Linked DNA regions of Homo sapiens: region 2 is linked to region 1. Evidence: fine-mapped expression QTL. A gene starts in region 1. The other region holds a variant in brackets. All regions are shown on one strand. Distances are from middle to middle. Region 1 holds the start of RGP1 (RGP1 partner of RAB6A GEF complex). Region 2 has its middle 96 kb from the start of MIR4475.

Evidence for each region. PIP is the estimated chance that this variant, and not a neighbour inherited with it, causes the effect.
Region 2: its variant is fine-mapped to the expression of RGP1 in naive CD8 T cells (Schmiedel 2018, PIP 0.95).

What each region holds. Positions count from the first base shown.
Region 1 is chr9:35,744,855-35,753,905 of GRCh38, forward strand. RGP1 (RGP1 partner of RAB6A GEF complex) reads left to right here and starts at 4,433. Exons shown (of 9, transcript NM_001080496.3): 1 at 4,433-4,554; 2 at 4,883-5,017; 3 at 5,389-5,525; 4 at 5,804-5,887; 5 at 5,986-6,135; 6 at 6,412-6,558; 7 at 6,773-6,900; 8 at 7,102-7,291; 9 at 7,797-9,051. The coding sequence starts at 4,902. The coding sequence ends at 8,020. GBA2 (glucosylceramidase beta 2) reads right to left here and starts at 4,374. Exons shown (of 17, transcript NM_020944.3): 1 at 3,492-4,374. The coding sequence starts at 3,850. MSMP (microseminoprotein, prostate associated) reads right to left here. Exons shown (of 3, transcript NM_001044264.3): 2 at 8,806-8,914; 3 at 8,136-8,426. The coding sequence ends at 8,246. RefSeq lists silencers at 4,073-4,472, 4,593-4,642, 4,673-4,722 and an enhancer at 8,036-9,051.
Region 2 is chr9:36,723,094-36,732,144 of GRCh38, forward strand. No RefSeq gene overlaps it. Among named protein-coding and RNA genes, the nearest start is that of MIR4475, 96 kb to the right of the region's middle. RefSeq lists an enhancer at 2,841-3,342. The variant T/A (reference allele first, on the strand shown) is at 5,142.

The DNA of each region.
Region 1 (9,051 bases):
AAGGTCCCTTCATCTTCCCAGTCACCCCAGCTGAAGTGAAGGAGTGGCTTTGTTTCTCTCCTTTGTTCTCCTCAGAAGGGGCTTTCTGATCTCTCCTTACCTCTCTAGCACCACCACCACTGCTTTATTTCCAACATCAGGAGCTTCTGTCTGACGTGCTGAAAGGACCATTTATGGTTTCCTGGCCTACAGCCTCCGCCCCCAATCCCCTACCTCCAAAACAGGCATAGGCTGCTGGGAATAACTTTCTTATCTTTATTTTTATTATTTATTATTTTTTTTTTGAGACAGAGTTTCGTTCCTTGTTGTCCAGGCTGGAGTGCAGTGGCTCGGTCTTGGCTCACTGCAAACTCCGCCTCCCAAGTTCAAGAAATTCTTCTGCCTCAGCCTCCCAAGTAGCTGGGATTACAGGTGCCCGCCACCATGCCTGGCACATTTTTTTGTGTTTTTAGTAGAGATGGGGTTTCACCATGTTAGCCAGGCTGGTCTTGAACTCCTGACCTCAGGTGATCCGCCCGCCTCGGCCTCCCAAAGTGCTGGGATTAGAGGCGTGAGCTACCGCTTCTGGCCTTTCTTCTTTTTAAAATGATCATTTTTCTTTCTAATTATGAAAGGTGAAAGGGGGAAAAAAATAATCTCACCCATAGACAATCAGTGTTTATATTTATTTCTGGACATTTCCTCTCAAGCCTTTTTTTTTTTTTTTTTTAAATTCAACATTTAAACTGTGAAGCTTTCTGATTTTGCTCTTGGTAAAGCCTTCAAAAAATCCCAACATTTTCCTGGGCTTGGTACAGCCCTATATCCAAGAGGCAAATGATTGAGGCTGTTTTCAATAGGCAAACGATTCTGTTTTCAAGGCTCTGACATCTGTCCCAGCCTATCTTCTAATCTTATTTCCTACAAATTCTCATTCCAGATGGGTCCTCACTAAGTAGCCCCTGCCCTGCCAGACTCTTTCCCATTTCCACTCTCCTGCCTACTGCCACATTATGCCTACTGTTCAGTCACACCACTTCTAACCAAATAATTGGGTAAGTAACCCCTAAGTCCCAGTTTCCTCATCTACAAAATGGGGATACCACCTGCTCTAGCTATCTAATGAAATGGTTGAAAGATCAAATGACATAATAGATAAGAAAGCCATAAAGTACAGGTATGATTATTACTCATATATACAAACTGTTATCTCAATTCCTAATCAGACATTGCCTTGTTATTTCAATGTTCCTCATGTGAGGCTGACATACTTTTAAGTTCCTTGGGGAAAGGGACAATGACAAAGACTAGCTGAATATTACCCTCAGGTCCAAGCACAGGGTAGGACATATGGTCTGCAGTCAATGCATATTTGCCAATTTTACAGATGAATGAACATACAAATGATGGGGCACAAGAGAGATAACAGACTGGAGCAGAGGAGAAGAAATGTGATTAATGAATAGGGACAGCGGCCAGGCACGGTGGCTCACACCTGTAATCCCAGCACTTTGAGAGGCCGAGGTGGGCGGATCACGTGAGGTCAGGAGTTCAAGACCAGCCTGGCCAATGTGGTGAAACCCCGTCTCTACTAAAAATACAAAAACATTAGCCAGCTGTGGTGGCAGGCACCTGCAATCCCAGCTACTCAGGAGGCTGAGGCAGGAGAATCGCTTGAACCCAGGAGACGGAGGTTGCACTGAGCTGAGATTGCACCATTGTACTCCAGCCTGGGTGACAAGAGCAAGACTGTCTCAAAAAAAAAATAATAATAAAATAAAAAGGGACAGCACATTCTAGGGGTGGAAAGAAGAGGGAAGACAAAGGATGGGATGACAGGAAGGCAGAGAATCCTCTCTGCCAGCTTAGAGAAAACCGGACTTTGAAACTAGAGACCAGAAAGGACTGGTAGAGGGAGGGTGTGGCCGAGGATTAGGGCAACCAGGGAGAGTAACTGCAATCTATGAGGACAGACAGAACAAAGGACTATCTGGCATGGAACAAGCACTCAATAAATATTTATTGAATGAGTGGACTCTGGCTGGAAGGGAGAACAATTGAAATTGAGTTCTTACGAAGGTAAGACCCAGAGAATTCTGTCTTGCTAGAGCTCCTGGTCAGAGTGCCCACAGTTCAGCTCCATCTTAGGAGCTCTCTTACTCCCTTAATATGGTAGCTGGCCATTCCTGACCTATTTGGCCTTCTCCACAATTTCAACCTCAACTCAAGAGTTATCACTTAGAATTCTTGTCTCACCTGTGCTTTCTCCTCATAGGAACTCATCCTATTCCAAAAGCCTTGTATCAGTACCCCCCACTCTATCCTGGAATGGGGAGCCAGGGTCCAGGGGGTTGAGCACAGCTTCAGGCCTCTATGACTCAGTTCATATTTAAGGGCTAAGAGGCTAGGATGCCCATCTTTTCTTGATCTCATTGTTCCTACCACATGCAACTCAGTGTACTTCTCTATGTACACTAGATCCTATTTTGATGCAAAAACTTTTGGGGTCAAACTTGGACTGAATTGATTCCAGAAGCAGCCTGGAGGGATGATTCTTCTCTGCTACAGGCTACCCACAGGCACCAACAAAGCCAGATGTGCAGGCAGCATCAGGCCCTTCCCACTCCCCAGGGCTAGGGTTAGATAACTGATCTCCCCATCACAGCCCCACAGCACTGACTGGGGAAATGAAGGGTCTCCTACTCTAGAAACTGTAAGGGCAGGGTTTCCCAAGCTTTATGCCTCCCTCCACAGTTCTGTGTGTATTGTGTAGACTGAGTCAGGATGACCTCAGGGTGATGCTTTCTGTCCTCACATCCACCTGTTCCTGTTAATGGGTCTGGCTCCTCATCACTAGTCTTTGAACTCAGTGGGGATCTAGATGGGTTCTACATCTATGGCAGTGCCTCTCTGATAAATGACTTAATATCAAGAGCTCTCTATCCCAGAACAGAATGACAGCACCTTCTCATCACTTCAGAGGTGAGGGCAGGGAGGCTCTTCTTACCTACTCCCTGGAGCTAAAGCTTGAAGAAAGAAGCAGTAGTGTTGGGACTCTAACAGTGTGTCTAATGAGGTACAGAGAATGCCCCAGCTGCTTGTGGGAAATAAGGGGTTGAGACCCCCCCACCCCCAAATAAAACAACATTGTGTTAGTATCACAGCAGCCAGATTATCCTTTCCTACCTTGCCACAAAGTATAGCTAATCCCAAAGGGAAGTCATTGGAAACCAGTATGTGAGAAGAGCCTGAATGGGAAAGGCTGATTGCATGACCAAATGTTCCTACCCTTTCCTTCTGAAAAGACAAAACACTGGGAGGGAAGGGTGTTGCAAAGAGATGTGACCTGGTCTCACGGTCCAAAACCACAGGCCTAAAATATGCCAGGGATAGGGACCGCTTCACTCAGACAAGAAGCCCAACTGCTTTCTTGCCCTTTCCCACCTCTGCTAGAAGTTTTGAGCTGGAACAAAGTGAAGCCAAAGGCATTCTAGGCAATGGGGTCTACTCACCTCAAGCCCATGCCTATATGCTTTATCATGTTGCTTAGGGAGACGTTGTTAGCTTGAAAGGGTTTCCTCTTCTCTGTAAACTCATGAGCCAGACAGATGCGCCAGCCAAAGGGAGGCACCTGGTAGCCCATAGCTTTACCCTCATAGGAAACCATCAGCTGCCCAGAGTCCTCCGGATTGCAGCAGTCCGTCTCTTTTGGGGGTCGGCTGTCTTCGGGACTCTTACAGTCTGTAACCTGCACATCCTTGGTGCCGCCAGTCTCTTCAGGGCAATAAACTTGTGGATCCTCTTTGGCACAGCTTATCTGCTCCGAGGCTGGGACGCCGGTTCCCATGTTCCCTGGATCCTGGGTCCCCATGACCTCGATGGCGCCAAGTCCCGAGCCCTCGGATACTAAGTATCTCGCCAGCCTATTCCAGATGCGGGCGCCGGTCGTTGTTAGGTATCGTCCCGGAGGGCCGGGCGTTGGGGAAAGCTTAAATGAGCTGGTGTTTCAGTGGAGCCGGGGAGCTCTTGCTTCAGTGGGGGCGGCGACAGCAAAGAAGCCGCCTTGGGCTCTCCTTCGGTTGTCTCTGTAGGTCCTGGACGGGAAGGGTCGGGCCTCGTCGTCATTGAGCCGACGATTAGCTCGCCCGGCCAAAGGGCGACTGGGCCCGCAGAGAGGGGAGGAGCCGCGGGGCCAGCCCACCAGGCACCGCCCCGGGACGGGCCCGCAAGGCACCGCCCCCGGGACCTCGGCCCGGCCCCTGGGCCACGGCACCGGGTCCCCCAGGATTGGGCGCCAGGTCCCGCCGGCCGGCTCCGGGGCAGCGCCCGCGCCCAGGTGCCAGCCCGTGGGAAGGTGACCCTGGGCGCCGGGATGACCCGAGCCCTTTCCGGTCTGGCCTGCCGGGCGCTTCCGGCCGGAAGGGACTCCGCGGAGGGTGGGGGACCGAAGGGAAGTCCCGCCTCTACCGCCCAGCGGACGCCGCCGCCGCCGCCGCCGCCGCGTACCTAGCCAGGTCCCTGAGGGGCGGGCAGATGAGGCCTAGGGGTGCCGATCCCTAGTGTCGACTATGCGAGGTGACTAGCGGCGGTGATCTTGGGCTGGGACGTGGAACTTTGAGGAAAGGGGGAGCGGAGGCCAGTTTGGGAACTCCGCGGGGGTGCCCAGGGAGAAGAACCCGTCGCACAGGGGCTGGGGTCTAGGGCCCAGAGCGATGTCCTCCCCCTGGGCAGTACTGAGTCTTCAGTCGCCTCCCTCCCACCCGCCTACCCCTCCTATATCCAGGAGCTCCCTCGGGCACCACGGTGCTGACCACCCCTGTCCTCAGCCCTCAGCCCTAGGTGCTCACCGCAACGCCCCTCCCTGTCAAGGTGCTGACCTCCGCCCCGCCTTGTTTCCTTCTAGATCTGATTCCGGAGCTGCCATGATTGAAGTGGTAGCAGAGCTCAGCCGGGGTCCTGTATTTTTGGCTGGGGAGGCGCTGGAGTGTGTAGTGACCGTCACCAACCCCCTTCCGCCCACGGCCACTTCTGCATCCAGGTGGGGATGCTGGCACTGAAGGTGGTGGCCCTTCTGGGAAGAAGCCAGATTATCTCTGGGGCTGAGGCAGAGCTCAGGTTGTCCTGTAGCGACACCACCTCCTCTTGCTCACTGTGCTGTCATTGTAGGAGAGGGCTCTTTAACAGAAGATGTGGATGACATAGCTGTACGCTTTCCTTCCCCTCCCCCGTTCCCCTTTTTACGCACAGTCTGCTACTCTTTATTTAATGGTTTCTCTTTGGGATTGTGGATTTCCTGATCACTAGGACAGCCATCTAACCTTGTTGGTTAAGATGGTGTGATAGGGAGCTTGGGAAAGCATTTGTGAGGTCAGGAACTACCTCTGATGCCTCCTTTTCCTTTTCCCACAGTGAGGCCCTGGCCTGGGCCAGTGCCCAAATCCACTGCCAGTTCCATGCCAGTGAGAGTCGAGTAGCACTGCCTCCTCCTGACTCTAGTCAGCCAGATGTCCAGCCCGACAGCCAGACTGTCTTTCTGCCACACCGAGGTTAGAGAGGGGCATTTGCCTGGGAGAGGGGGGGTGCGGAGGGTGTGTGTGGAGGCATTGTCACCCATGGGTGAAGTTGTTAATTGTTCTTGTTCTTATAGTCCCTGTCATGCTGGGGATGTTGGGGAGCATGACTATTGCTTTAGGGGTAGAAGACTATTCCCATTTCACAGCAGGGACGGAGGGCCTGGCAGCCTTTCACTATCTCCACTTGCCGTGCTAGTCTTGTTCAGTACTGGACAATGGGTCATTAAATTAGTCATTTTTACCTTTTTCAGGTGAGAGGGGCCAGTGTATCCTTTCTACTCCACCGAAAATTCTATTCTGTGACCTGAGGCTTGATCCTGGAGAGTCCAAATCATGTGAGTGATTGTCCCCATCCCTGAATTGCCTTCTAAGTCTCCTGGAGGGAGGACTCCTCTGGTGCCTCTGGCTGTCCTGACAACTACTTCCCAACCAGACTCCTACAGTGAAGTGCTGCCCATAGAGGGACCACCCTCCTTTCGGGGTCAGTCAGTCAAGTACGTCTACAAACTGACCATTGGCTGCCAGCGTGTCAACTCCCCTATCACTTTACTCAGAGTCCCTCTGAGGGTTCTTGTGCTGACTGGTAAGCAAGGGCTCCTGGAGGGAAGGGCTGGGGAAGGGCGATGCCAAAGCAGAAATTGTCTTAGAGGGCTTGCAAGAGGGACTGCAGGGAAACTTCCTGGTCTCAGTGACAGTGCTAGGGAGTTGGGAAGGGAGGGAGGGTTCTGGAGATAGAGATGTAAACCTCAGCCCTGGCACCCCTTACCTTTAGCCATCTCATGTTAGAATCTAAAACCCTAACCTCTACTCTCATCTCCGTTCCCTCTCAGCATTACCTCTCCACTCATTCTTTCTCTAGGCCTTCAGGATGTCCGGTTTCCCCAGGATGAGGCTGTAGCCCCATCCAGTCCATTCTTGGAGGAGGATGAAGGTGGGAAGAAAGATTCATGGCTAGCTGAGCTGGCTGGGGAACGCCTAATGGCTGCCACATCCTGCCGCAGCCTCCGTGAGAATTCTTTCAGAATTGTCCTACCCCATCCTTCCCCTCATTGTTTTCCCATCTCAGAGACAGTCTCCTAACCACCACACACTTCTGTGGATCCACTGATACCTGACACCTCCAATTTTAAAGAAAAGCCCCATCTTTTGGCCTGTGGTGCCCAGTCCTAGACGTTATCCAGTATGTAGACTCCAGGCTTATAGTGTCCTATTCTCCCCAGATCTATACAATATCAGTGATGGCCGAGGGAAAGTTGGGACGTTTGGCATCTTCAAATCTGTGTACAGACTTGGCGAGGACGTGGTGGGGACCTTAAACTTAGGGGAAGGAACCGTAGCTTGTTTGCAGGTAAGAAGGGAGCAGAGCTTCTTACCTGCTGGGGTGCTGGGGTTGAAGGGCTAGGGTGGAAGGCCTGTATAAAGAGGGGTGGCATGTAGAAGGGGATAGTGGGGTCATCCAGGGTCCCTTTGTAAAACAGCTTGAGGTTGGGCTGTCCTCTCACCTACAGACAGCACTTCCTGTTAGCACACACCTGTCTCTTGCTCCCAGTTTTCAGTCAGCTTACAGACCGAGGAGCGTGTACAGCCTGAGTACCAGCGGCGACGTGGGGCAGGGGGTGTCCCCTCTGTGTCACATGTGACTCACGCCCGGCACCAGGAATCCTGCCTACATACAACTAGAACCAGCTTCTCCCTCCCAATCCCTCTCAGCTCCACCCCAGGCTTCTGTACAGCCATTGGTGAGACCCTCACTGTTACTGGAGAAGGGAGAGGGGGACAGTAAAATGCTGTGCTAAGGGAGGGTGTAATGGATCCTGATTCCTTATACACACTCCCAGACATACCCACGTCTAGCCTCTGACCCGGAACAGTTTCTCAGACCTTCAACCTCTTCCTGTTTCTTAGATGCACTGACCCCTAAACTCCTAACAGCTTGATAGAACTCCTTCCCCACACCTACCTACTAGGACCCTGTGATACACTGATTTTTGATTACTTCATGCTACCTAGACTTGACTGCCTCACTCTTAGGTTATTAGGTACTTAATACTGCTATCTTCAGCTCACATCTGTGGTAGTACCCATTGCTTCAGAAAAACCCTTAATCACAGCTCCCTGCCCTGTGACTTTTCCCTGTCTTCCTGAACACAGATTGTTTTCTTCTCATTCACTAACTATATCCTGTCATTGGCTTTTACTCCTGCTAGCTTCTGATGCTTCTACCTTAATCTTTTTCTTCCATAGTGTCCTTGAAGTGGAGATTGCATTTTGAATTTGTAACGTCCCGAGAACCAGGATTGGTACTCCTACCCCCTGTGGAACAGCCCGAACCTACCACCTGGACAGGACCTGAGCAAGTACCTGTAGACACCTTCAGCTGGGACCTGCCCATCAAGGTGCTGCCTACTAGCCCCACCCTGGCCTCATATGCTGCCCCAGGCCCCAGCACCAGCACCATAACCATCTGAAACTGGCCCACCCTGGTGCTAGTTCCTTCCGGATACTGAGAACTCAGCACCTGGACTCTAATGGGACCCACTTTTTCCACCTGGGGTCCAATGTCGTGGACAGTGAGAGTCGGGCTTTCAGCTATAGCATTAATTTATTTGTTCAGAATACATTGGCAGCTGCTAGTGGTTTCCCTGGAAGTGGCAGCAGCAGTGAGCAGTCAGCAGATGGATGATCAGTTGAGTTTAGCTGGAGTGGGGAGCAGGAGCCCCAGGAACAGGGGTGTTGGCTGAGCCCCATTCTGGGTCAGGCCCTCCCCCTTTGCAGGGCAGCCGAGGGTCAGATTTTTGCACCAAGGAGAACTGGCAGGTTCCTGCCTCCTGACGTACCTCACACCCAGCCGGGAAGTCGATGGGATGCTGGGACCTGGGGAACCAAGGATAGGGGAAGGAGTCAGCACAGTGAAAGGCTGCCTTTATCCCTGCCCACATGTTCCCTCTCTCACAGTTTTCCCCCCACAGAGCCCCTTTCAGTGGCCCCTTGGTCCTCCTAACTAAGCTGTCACCTACCATATGTGGGCCTTTTTGTTTTATAACAGGAGTATTTTCTCTCCAGGTCCACCCCAACCTCCCCTGATTTATAGCCTGAAGCCTTATCTTTCACACTAGTGTTGGTCCCTTCAGGTTTGGCCCATCTTGTATTGCTCTTCTGTTCATTCTTACATCACAGCAATCTAGTCACTCCCTGGTCATCCCTCAGTCACTCATATCAGAGTCATTCTCTCTGGCCATCTTTGGTCACTCACGTGTCACAGCAGCCCACGCCAACAGGATGCAGACAGGTGCAATGGAAACAGTCCTTGCGGAGCCAAGACTCACCCAGGGTAAAATATTTCCCCTCATAGTGACAGGGGGCTAGGGAAGAACGGGAAATGTTAGTAGGTGTAGGAGTGCTGATGAGAGGCAGAGGCTCTTCTGGTCTGGGGTGGAGACAGTAAGTACGCACTATCCCCGTATTTAGTTTGTCTTTCCTGTTTCACAGCTGGAGGAAG
Region 2 (9,051 bases), 980 kb after region 1:
TCTCCAAGTTTTTCAAATATTCATTTTCTTCATCCTCAGGAGCTGCTTTTTCCTCTGTTTATTTTTCTTTCATAGTGAAGGCAGACTTTTCTTTAAAAGCACCCATTCTTTTAGATATTTATTGGCCTCTGTTTCTCTGACTCAGCTGGGTGGGATGCTGGGATTTTTCTGTTTCCAGCATGACTCTATCTTGATTCTGAAAAGTTCCCTATGAAGGGCTCACTGGGCCTTTGTGACTCTATCAGGTTGTGGACCCAGTGGGCAGGGGACATCTGAGAAAGGAGAGAGGGGAGAGAAGAAAGAAAGAGAAGCGGAAATGGAAGCCTGGAAATGGAAGCAAGAACAGAAGTGAGATTTTATAAGTGGTGATGTTGCCCAGACTCAGGACAGAAGGCAAACAAGCTACCAAACTAGACCCAGGTCTGCCTGCTCCTGGACTCTCCCAGGGGTGCACTGGTGTGGTGGATAAGAGTTTGCAGGTCTGGGACCCCAGGTGGGTTCCAGTTGTGTCCCACCGATTAGCAGCTACGCAGTGTGAGTAAACTCCTTAACCTATGCCTCGGTTCCTCAGCTGTAAAAATTGGGATAACAATAGTTCTTGCTTTGTAGGATCATGTGGGGATTTATTTATATGTGCATTTACACAATTATTTTTCAGCTTCCTACGATGTGCCAAGCTCTGTACTAAGCACTGGGGATATAGCCGAGGGCAAAATCCAGCCCCCACCTCTGTATTTCCGGAGTTGTGGTCAGGGTGGAGTGGCATATATCCATCTATTAACTGCTCATGTAAAATGGACAGGTACTGCTAGGGAGTCCCCAAAGACCTGAATTCAGGGAGCCCTGGGAGTGTTTCAGGTGAGGAGAGGGGAGAGTACAGTAGGCAAGGCAGGTGAGGCGTGGTAGAGAGGTGGGGAATTCGGGAGGGGTGTGTAAGCTGCCTGCATGGAGTTAAGTATGGCTCTGCTCCAGGAATTGCCCCTGTGAGTACTTTAGCAGGACTGCAGGCTCTTCCTAGGGGCCATAGCCATCCCCCTGAATAGGAATGGAGCTATTGGATACCTCCTGACCAACTGTGGGTCAGCAGTGACAGGCTCTAGAGGAAGGGGCTGAGGTCGAGGGTCCCAGTGGTGGGGGCACTAGGATTCTGGATGTCCCTGAATGGGTCCAGCTGCAGGAGGGTCTGGAGTGAGGTGAAGCATGAGACAGGGGCCATGCGATGGTCTGAAACTATCCTCAGTTGTGGTTCATAACTTTCGGCATGTATCAGAACCACCTGCAGCTGCAGACATCTGAGCTCCATCCCTGGAGATTGGTTTATCAAGTTGGGCCAGGGCCCAGGAATCTGCATTGTAATAAGAGCCCTGGGTTGGGGACTCCACTGAGAAGCACTGCCCAACAGCAACTTGGCCTTCTGAACAAACCTGGGCCTTGTCTGGATTCCTGCAGTCTCAGATGGAGGAGCTGAGAAGTTTCTTTCAGGAAAGGATTCTTGCTATCTGGGTCCAAAAGTGCTAATATTAGCAGCCTTCCTGAACCTGAGAACATTGAGCAACTTTGAAATCCATGTAGCAGTGTGAAATGGGAATTAAGGAGCCATAGCTTGGTCCATCATTTCAATGAAGATGTGGGAAAACCTGGCCAGATGTTCCATCAGCTGTGGGAAGAGCCTAGCAGGTCCAATGAACATCTAGATCTGGCACCCACTGGTGAGAGACATTTGGAGAAAGAGGGACATTGGCAGCTTCCTTGGCACAGAAGAGTGGAGGGGCCGTTCATTCAGAGAGGGACCCAAGCCCTGGGAATTCCTGCCAGGCCTAGGGGCCCAAGAGCTGGGGTGGAGGCCTGTTCACAGGTGCAGGTCCTGGAAGAGGTGGAGGCCATGCGGAGGGAGCAGGCAGAGATGGGCAGGAGGAGTGAGGGACTCTTGATCTTGGTGATCAGGTGATCAATTACCCTGGTTTATCCTAGTTTTAGCACTGAAAGTCCCATATCCCAGGAACCCCTCAGACCAGGGCAAACCGAGATGGTTGGTCACCATACTTTACTTGGCAACAAGGGAATTGCATTCTATTGGAAGGCTCGATTTCTCAGTGGTTACAGCAGAAACTATGACCCCTAGAGCTGGATGTTGATTCTGGCTCTACCGTTACTGTGTGATCTGGGGCAAGGGTTTTAATTGCTCTTGGTTTTAGTTTCTGATATATAAAATGGGAATAATATTTCCTTCATAGGAGGATTTGGGGGAGGGGTAAAAAGGATAATGCATGTAGAACCTTAGCATAGGGCTTGGTATGTTTATTTATTTGACAAATATGTTTTGGCCACTATGACCCTATTTTCTCATATTTCATTGAATGTAAGATGCCATCAATTAATTGTATACTGAACAATGATTGGCCTACTATGAAGGAAAGAATGCTGCCCATTACACTTTGACTTATGATGGATTGCAAGTTATATCTCAATTTCAGAGATACTAACATGTGAAAAAAAATACCCACCTTAGAATCGATGAACCAGGTACCACGTTGGGAACCTCTGGGCTATGGTGGTGAATAAGGCCATTAAAGCCTCTGCCACTGCTCAATTTGCAGCTCAGTGCAGGCTTCTGGGTGGAGACACTTTTCCAAAAACTCCTGAGGTCTAAGTATGTCTCCTTGAAGACTGTGGCAGGTATCCTATGTTCAATTTAAAATGTCAGATGTGAGGGAGAGTTCCAGGCTGTATGGGGTGCCAGAAGAGAAAATTCTTGGTTTACATGGTCACATGATTGCTCTGGGACCTGGGGCCAGTCAGTTGTGCTTTCTGTGTCTCTGGTGTGAACAGGGGGATTGATTCTAGCTCTGAGGCCTTCCTGGCTTCAACCTTCAGGGACTCTGTTGGGTCCCCCATGGTGGCCAAGTCCCCCTCTCCCAATTGCAGGAAGGGCTTCCTTCTGGATATATGGTCTGCCAAGGGAATGCAACTCTCCCTTGGTGAGTGCCACTCACTGCCAGACTGGGATGGGTGGGAGTGGTGCTTGGGGTGGGATAGGCAGGGGAAGCTCCAGGTGTCAGGTTACACTCCTTGCAGAGCACTGCTGGGCCTGAATGGGAGCCAGGGAGAACGTCCTGCCTTCTCCATCTTTGTTCCTACTAGTTTTTCACAAAGGGACACATGCAGTTTTCCCCTTCATTGTGGGTTCCCTATGTGGGAAAATTCCATTTGCTAGGCCTCAGAACCAGTCCGTGGAACCATGACGGCACCTTCCCCCACCCAGTGTGCCCGATTAGCCTCCAGAGGAGGCTTCTGAAAGGTCAGCTGGTGGGGCATTTCTACCCTGTTGTGGACGATGTGAGGTCAGCACAGACTCCAGGGAGGGCGGCCAGTTTCTACCTAGTCCTGAAAGCAGCACTAAGTTAAATGCTCGCGGGGGTGGGGCAGGAGGGTGGGAAACCCAAGGCTGAGAATACTGTTTGTTTAGAGCGTGATCCACAGAGCATCGAGGGCCCGCTTTCTGTACCTCATTATGTGAAGCCTTGAAGCCTTGTGGTGCCAGCTAAGGGGGGAAGTGCTCAGTGTGGGCCAAGGGAGGAGCTACCCCTGGGGTCCCTCCTGCTGAAAGTCTGGAGTGGTCATGGGGATGAGGGCAGAATTAGATACCTGTCCCAGGACCCTGGTTGAGGGTAGAAAGTCATTTCACGTCGGGAGGAGGCTGGGGGCTGATGCGACACTTGAAAATATATATTTATCATTTTTTTATGACTAGATAAATACTAGAAAATCTAGAAACATAGACAAAAATCCAAAAGAATAAAATAAAAATCACAGCAATCCAATAATCTAGAGTCAACTTCCTTTGACATTCTGGTGTATTTTCTATTAGAATCTGTGTTCTAAACACAGGCCTAGATCTTACATTTGAAGGGCCCAGGGCAAGGGTACAATTGGAGTTCCACATACCATATGTTTAAATATTTAATATTTAAATCATTTTTTCTAAGAAAGATTTTCTTCTGAAACATTCAAAATTATCTGTCAAGACCAAAAGGCAAAACTCAAATTACAATGAGTAAATCTTAAAAATTTAGATGAAAATTATTTCTGTAAAGCAGACATTAAAATTTTTTAAAAACGTTTGATTACATTCCATTAGGTATTAAAAATAGCAAAACTCTATGCTATTTGAATGGCCAGGATCCAGGGTCTATAGTTGTCAATGTAAAGAACTGATATACTTCATACATATTATGTCTGGACCTACACGCAGGGAAATTTAAGAGTGCAATGAATCGTTTGCTATTGCAGAATAGTCTTCAGCTGTTAGGTTCCTCTGGAACCATGAATTAGAACATGAAGAAAAGCAAGGAAATGGACACTTGGCACTGCTGGGAGACTATACTTTGTTATGTAAGAAAATGTTGCATTCCACGCTACCTGAGAGGAAGTGTTTGACAAATTAATTTGTCTATTCTCTTACATGCTTAAGCACGTCCACTGCTCAAATTTTCCCTGTACTCTGAAGCGTCGTCCATCTCTGATGTCAGCCACAGCACAGCCCACGTGGTGTTGTGGCATTGGGATTCAGTCCCTTTTGTCTCAAAGACAGAGGACAAGACCTGGAGACACATCTCCTGGGTCTTGATGATGTTAGTCCCAAGTTAATGTTTAGGGTTACGCTATGCAGCACTGAACACCAGGTCGCAAGTAACAGAAGTGACTGTCTTCATAATAACTATTTGCCTATGTGTGTTTATGAAATGCCGAACACTTTGAATTGTGGGATCTAAGGCATGGACCACACTTACCCAGGTCTAAGGTCTAAGCGTGTGTGTGTGCGTGTGTGCGTGCATGTGCATGTGTGTGCGTGTGTGTGTATATAAAACTATGTATATATTTAATTTAAAATTAATATATTTATTTTAATATTGTAAGGTCTAATTTTAAAAAATACATATATAGAAAATTAGTACTAAATAGTGAGTACCTCTGGAACCACAAATTATATTTTATATGCACAAGGAATTTTAAAATATTAGGAATGTACAATATGTATTATTTCCTCAGTTTTCTAGCATAATTTTTTTCTTTATACATATTCTTCTAAAAATTTATTTTTAATGATTATACAGTATTCCACAAAACAGATATGTCATTAT[T/A]TATTTATTTATTGAGACAGAGTCTCACTCTGTTGCCCTGGCTGAAGTGCAATGGTGTGACCTTGGCTCACTGCAACCTCTGCCTCCTGGGTTCAAGCGATTCTCCAGCCTTAGACTCCTGAGTAGCTGGGATTACAGGTCGCCGCCACCACGCCCGGCTAATTTTTGTATTTTTAGTAGAGATGAGGTTTCACCAGGTTGGCCAGGCTAGTCTTGAACTCCTAACCTCAAGTGATCCACCTGCCTTGGCCTCCCAAAGTGTTGAGATTGCAGGCATGAGCCACTGGGCCTGGCTGTGTCATCATTTATTAAAGCAGTCCTGTAGTGGTTGTTTCCAATTTTTATGTTGCTTCCAGTTTTTCTCTACTATCAACACCGCCACAATGAACATCCTTGTGTGCATGTAAGCTACATTTCTGGAAGTGGCATCCTCAGGTCGGAGCATATACATTGTGTATATTTAGTTGAGTCAGGGGGCAGCCCCTTTAAAAAGACCCAAGTTTCATTGATAAGCTCTTTTATTTTTTGTTTGTTTAGAGTTGGTCCCAGGGAGACCGAAGCCTGCAGGCAGTACTAGAATTGGCCCAGGGAATGGGGTCTGGAGTTATGGATCCCAACTCTCTCTGAGCTTGGGAGAGTCCCTTCCCCTGTCTGGGCCTCACTTTCTTTATCTGTTCAAAGAAGACTCATTGGTACTGACCTAATGAGAAAAAAAAGGGAAAATAAAAGAAGAACAAAGAGGAGTCAGAGTAGGTTGCAGAGTCCTTGCAATCAGAAACGCTCTGATTCTGGGAGGGTTTGCTTGCTGGGTAAGTGGAGCCAAGCTCCAGCCTCTGGGGCTCTGTCCCTGAGACCATCCTGCCCCCTGCTGGCCAGTTGCCAAATGCCAGCTTTGTTCCTGACTCCCACAGGGAGATTCCCCGGAAATTTGCTGGACTCCCAGCAAGTCAGTTGCCCACTGTGAAAGCAGGAGGCTACAAGAGTATGAGAAGTGAGCGCCAACATTGCTACAATTCATTTAGCTGCTGTTTCACTTCTGGAAATTACATTCTTTGGGCTGTGCTTCCAAATGTCTCATTTCATTCATTTGTTCAGCAAATGCTTCCAAGTTCCTCCTTTGTGTCTGGGCTATGTTAGGGGGCTGGAGACACAGTGTTTGCCTGCAAAAAATGCACAGGCTAGATAGGGCCAAAGAACTGGCCATAGGTTACTACCATACAGAGGACAGAGAGGGGCACAGAGAAAAGCCTTCAGATGTTTAATTATTAGGCTATTGCTGGGCTTTCAAACCCCTGATCCTCATCTGTCTAGATAAAGAGCATAAATAGATGTATACTGGGTTGAATAGCATCCCTCCCTAACACTTGTCCACCCAGAACCTGTGAATGCAATACAGGGTCTTTGCAGATGTAATCAAGTAAAGATGAGGTCATGCTAGTGGGCCCTAATCCAATGATGGGTGTCCTTATAAGACGAGGAGACAGAGACCCAGAGAGACATGCAGAGGGGAAGGCCATGTGAAGGCACTCATAAGTCCCAGAATGGCGGGGATTGCCAGGAACCACCAGCAATTAGAAGAGGCAAGGAAGGATTTCTCCCCTGGAGAGACCATGGCTAGCTGACACCTTAATTTTGGACTTTGGGCCTCCAGAGATACGGGACAATACATTGATGTTGTTCTAAGCCACCCAGTTTGTGGTAATTTGTTGCAGCAGCCCTTGGAAACTAATGCAACAAACTTCTTGAGGATGAAAGTTAGCAAACTGAGGAGTACTCGGAATCCAAGTGAGTGAGTGTGTGTGTGTGTGTGTGTGTGTGTCAGGGTGGGAGGAGCTGGAAGTTTCAAGTTACAGCTTCATCTTGGCTGACTGGCTGTGTGTCCTTGGGTAAGTCCCTTCCTTCCCCTCTCTGGGCATTGGTTTCTTGGCCTATATAGGAAGACATTAGACTAGCCCAGTAGCCTTTGCAATTCATTCTGCTGCTGTTTCATTTCCGAAAACTGCATTCTTTGGGACCATGACAAAACCTTTTTTTGTCCTTTTTTAAAGAATCTGGACCCTTTTTTTTTCTCAAACAAAAGTAAACATATTGCCCCGCATATAAATGAGCACAGCTAAGCTGTGCCAGGCACAGGGTTCTGGGGCTGGTGAAGTACTTTTGGGATTTCCTGACCCTTCTCCAAGAACACCAAGGTTGTGCTGGATCCTGTACTGGCCCCTCTGGCATTCAGAAGGTGACATATGATGTCAAATAACTGTGGGTAATCCCAGAGTGAGTCCCTTTCTTCATGATTTAACAGGAAGGTTTATTTAGTCCTTGGGGTTTATGAGTTTGGGATCACAGAGCTTTTATGTGGACTCAGGAAGGGTGAGTGTATCAGTTTCCTGTGGCTGCTGTAACAAATGGCCACAGAGCTGGTGGCTTCAAACAACCGAAATTTATTCTCTTGTAGTTCTGGAGGCCAGAAGCCTCAAATCAGTCTCACCGGGTGGAAACGGAGGTGCTGGTGGAGCCATGCTCTCTCCACAGGCTCTAAGGGAGATTCCTTTCCTCGTGGCTTCCAGAACCTGGCGACTGCCTGTGTTCCTGGCTTGGGGCCACATCTCTCCAATCTCTGCTTCTGTGGCCACACTACCATTTCCTCTGCCTGTGTTACATCTCCCCCTACCTCTGTCTTATGAGGACACTTGTGACTGTATTTATCCCCTGCCCCCAGATAATCGAGGATCATCTATCTCATTTTCAATTTATCCACATCTGCAGAGTCTATTTTGCTGTATAAGGTAAGTGCACAGTCTAATCTGGGAATTAGACCCTGATACTGGGGCCATCATTCAGTGCACTGTAGAAGGTGATATATCCATGATGAAGCCCATGGCAGAGACCAACTCTGTCAGTCTCCTCTCTTATTCTCATTACTCCCACCCTCCCTCTCTGCCCAGGAAAGAAGCTATAGAAGGCATTTGGAACCCTTTTTTGGGTAAGGGGCGGAGGCGGGGAGGGAGGAGGCTGTGGCATTGTTTGCCGGCCAACCTCCTGGGCAGCTCCTGCTGAGCTGAGGACACAGGAAGGCAGAGCCATTCCCATGGAGAAATAGAACAAGGCCCAACCTGGCAGCCATGTCTGGAGGCAGCCCTTTGTCAAAAGTTCATCTGACCAGGGAGAGAAATTGCATACTCAGAGTTAGATCTTGTGCAAGGAGCTTCCCCATGCCATGTAATCCTCTCAAGAACCCTCTGAGACAGAGGTTATTAGGACCACTTTACAGATGAGAAAACAGGCTCTGGGAAGGAAAGTGACTTTCCAAGCTACATAGTGTTAAAAGAAAAACTTCAGCTGAATTAAATGTAAAGGAATTTAATTGAGCAATGAACGATTCGAGAATCGTGCAGCTCCCAGAATCACAGCAGATTTGGAGAGACTCCAGGGATGCCTCCTGGTCAGAACAAATTTATAGACAACAAAAGGGAAGTGACGTACAGAAATCGAAAGTGAGGTACAGAAACAGTTGATTGCTCACAGTTTGGCGTTTGCCTTATTTGAACACAGTTTAAACACTTAGTGGTCTATGAGTGGTTGAAGTATGCCGCTGGGATTGGACAAAACTCAGCTGTTGTTACAGGCACATACTCCTAAGTTAGGTTTTCAATCTTGTCAGCCTGTTAAGCTAGGTTACAGTTTGTCCACAAGGACTCAGATATAGAAGTATGGAGTTCTGGCTGGGTGCGGTGGCTCACATCTGCAATCCCAGCACTTTGGGAGGCTGAGGTGGGTAGACCACTTGAGGTCAGGAGTTCGAGACCAGCCTGGCTAATATGGTGAAATCCTGTTGCTTCCAAAAATGTAAAAAATTAGCCAGGCGTGATGGTGCGTGCCTGTAATCCCAGCTACTCAGGAGGCTGAGGCAGGA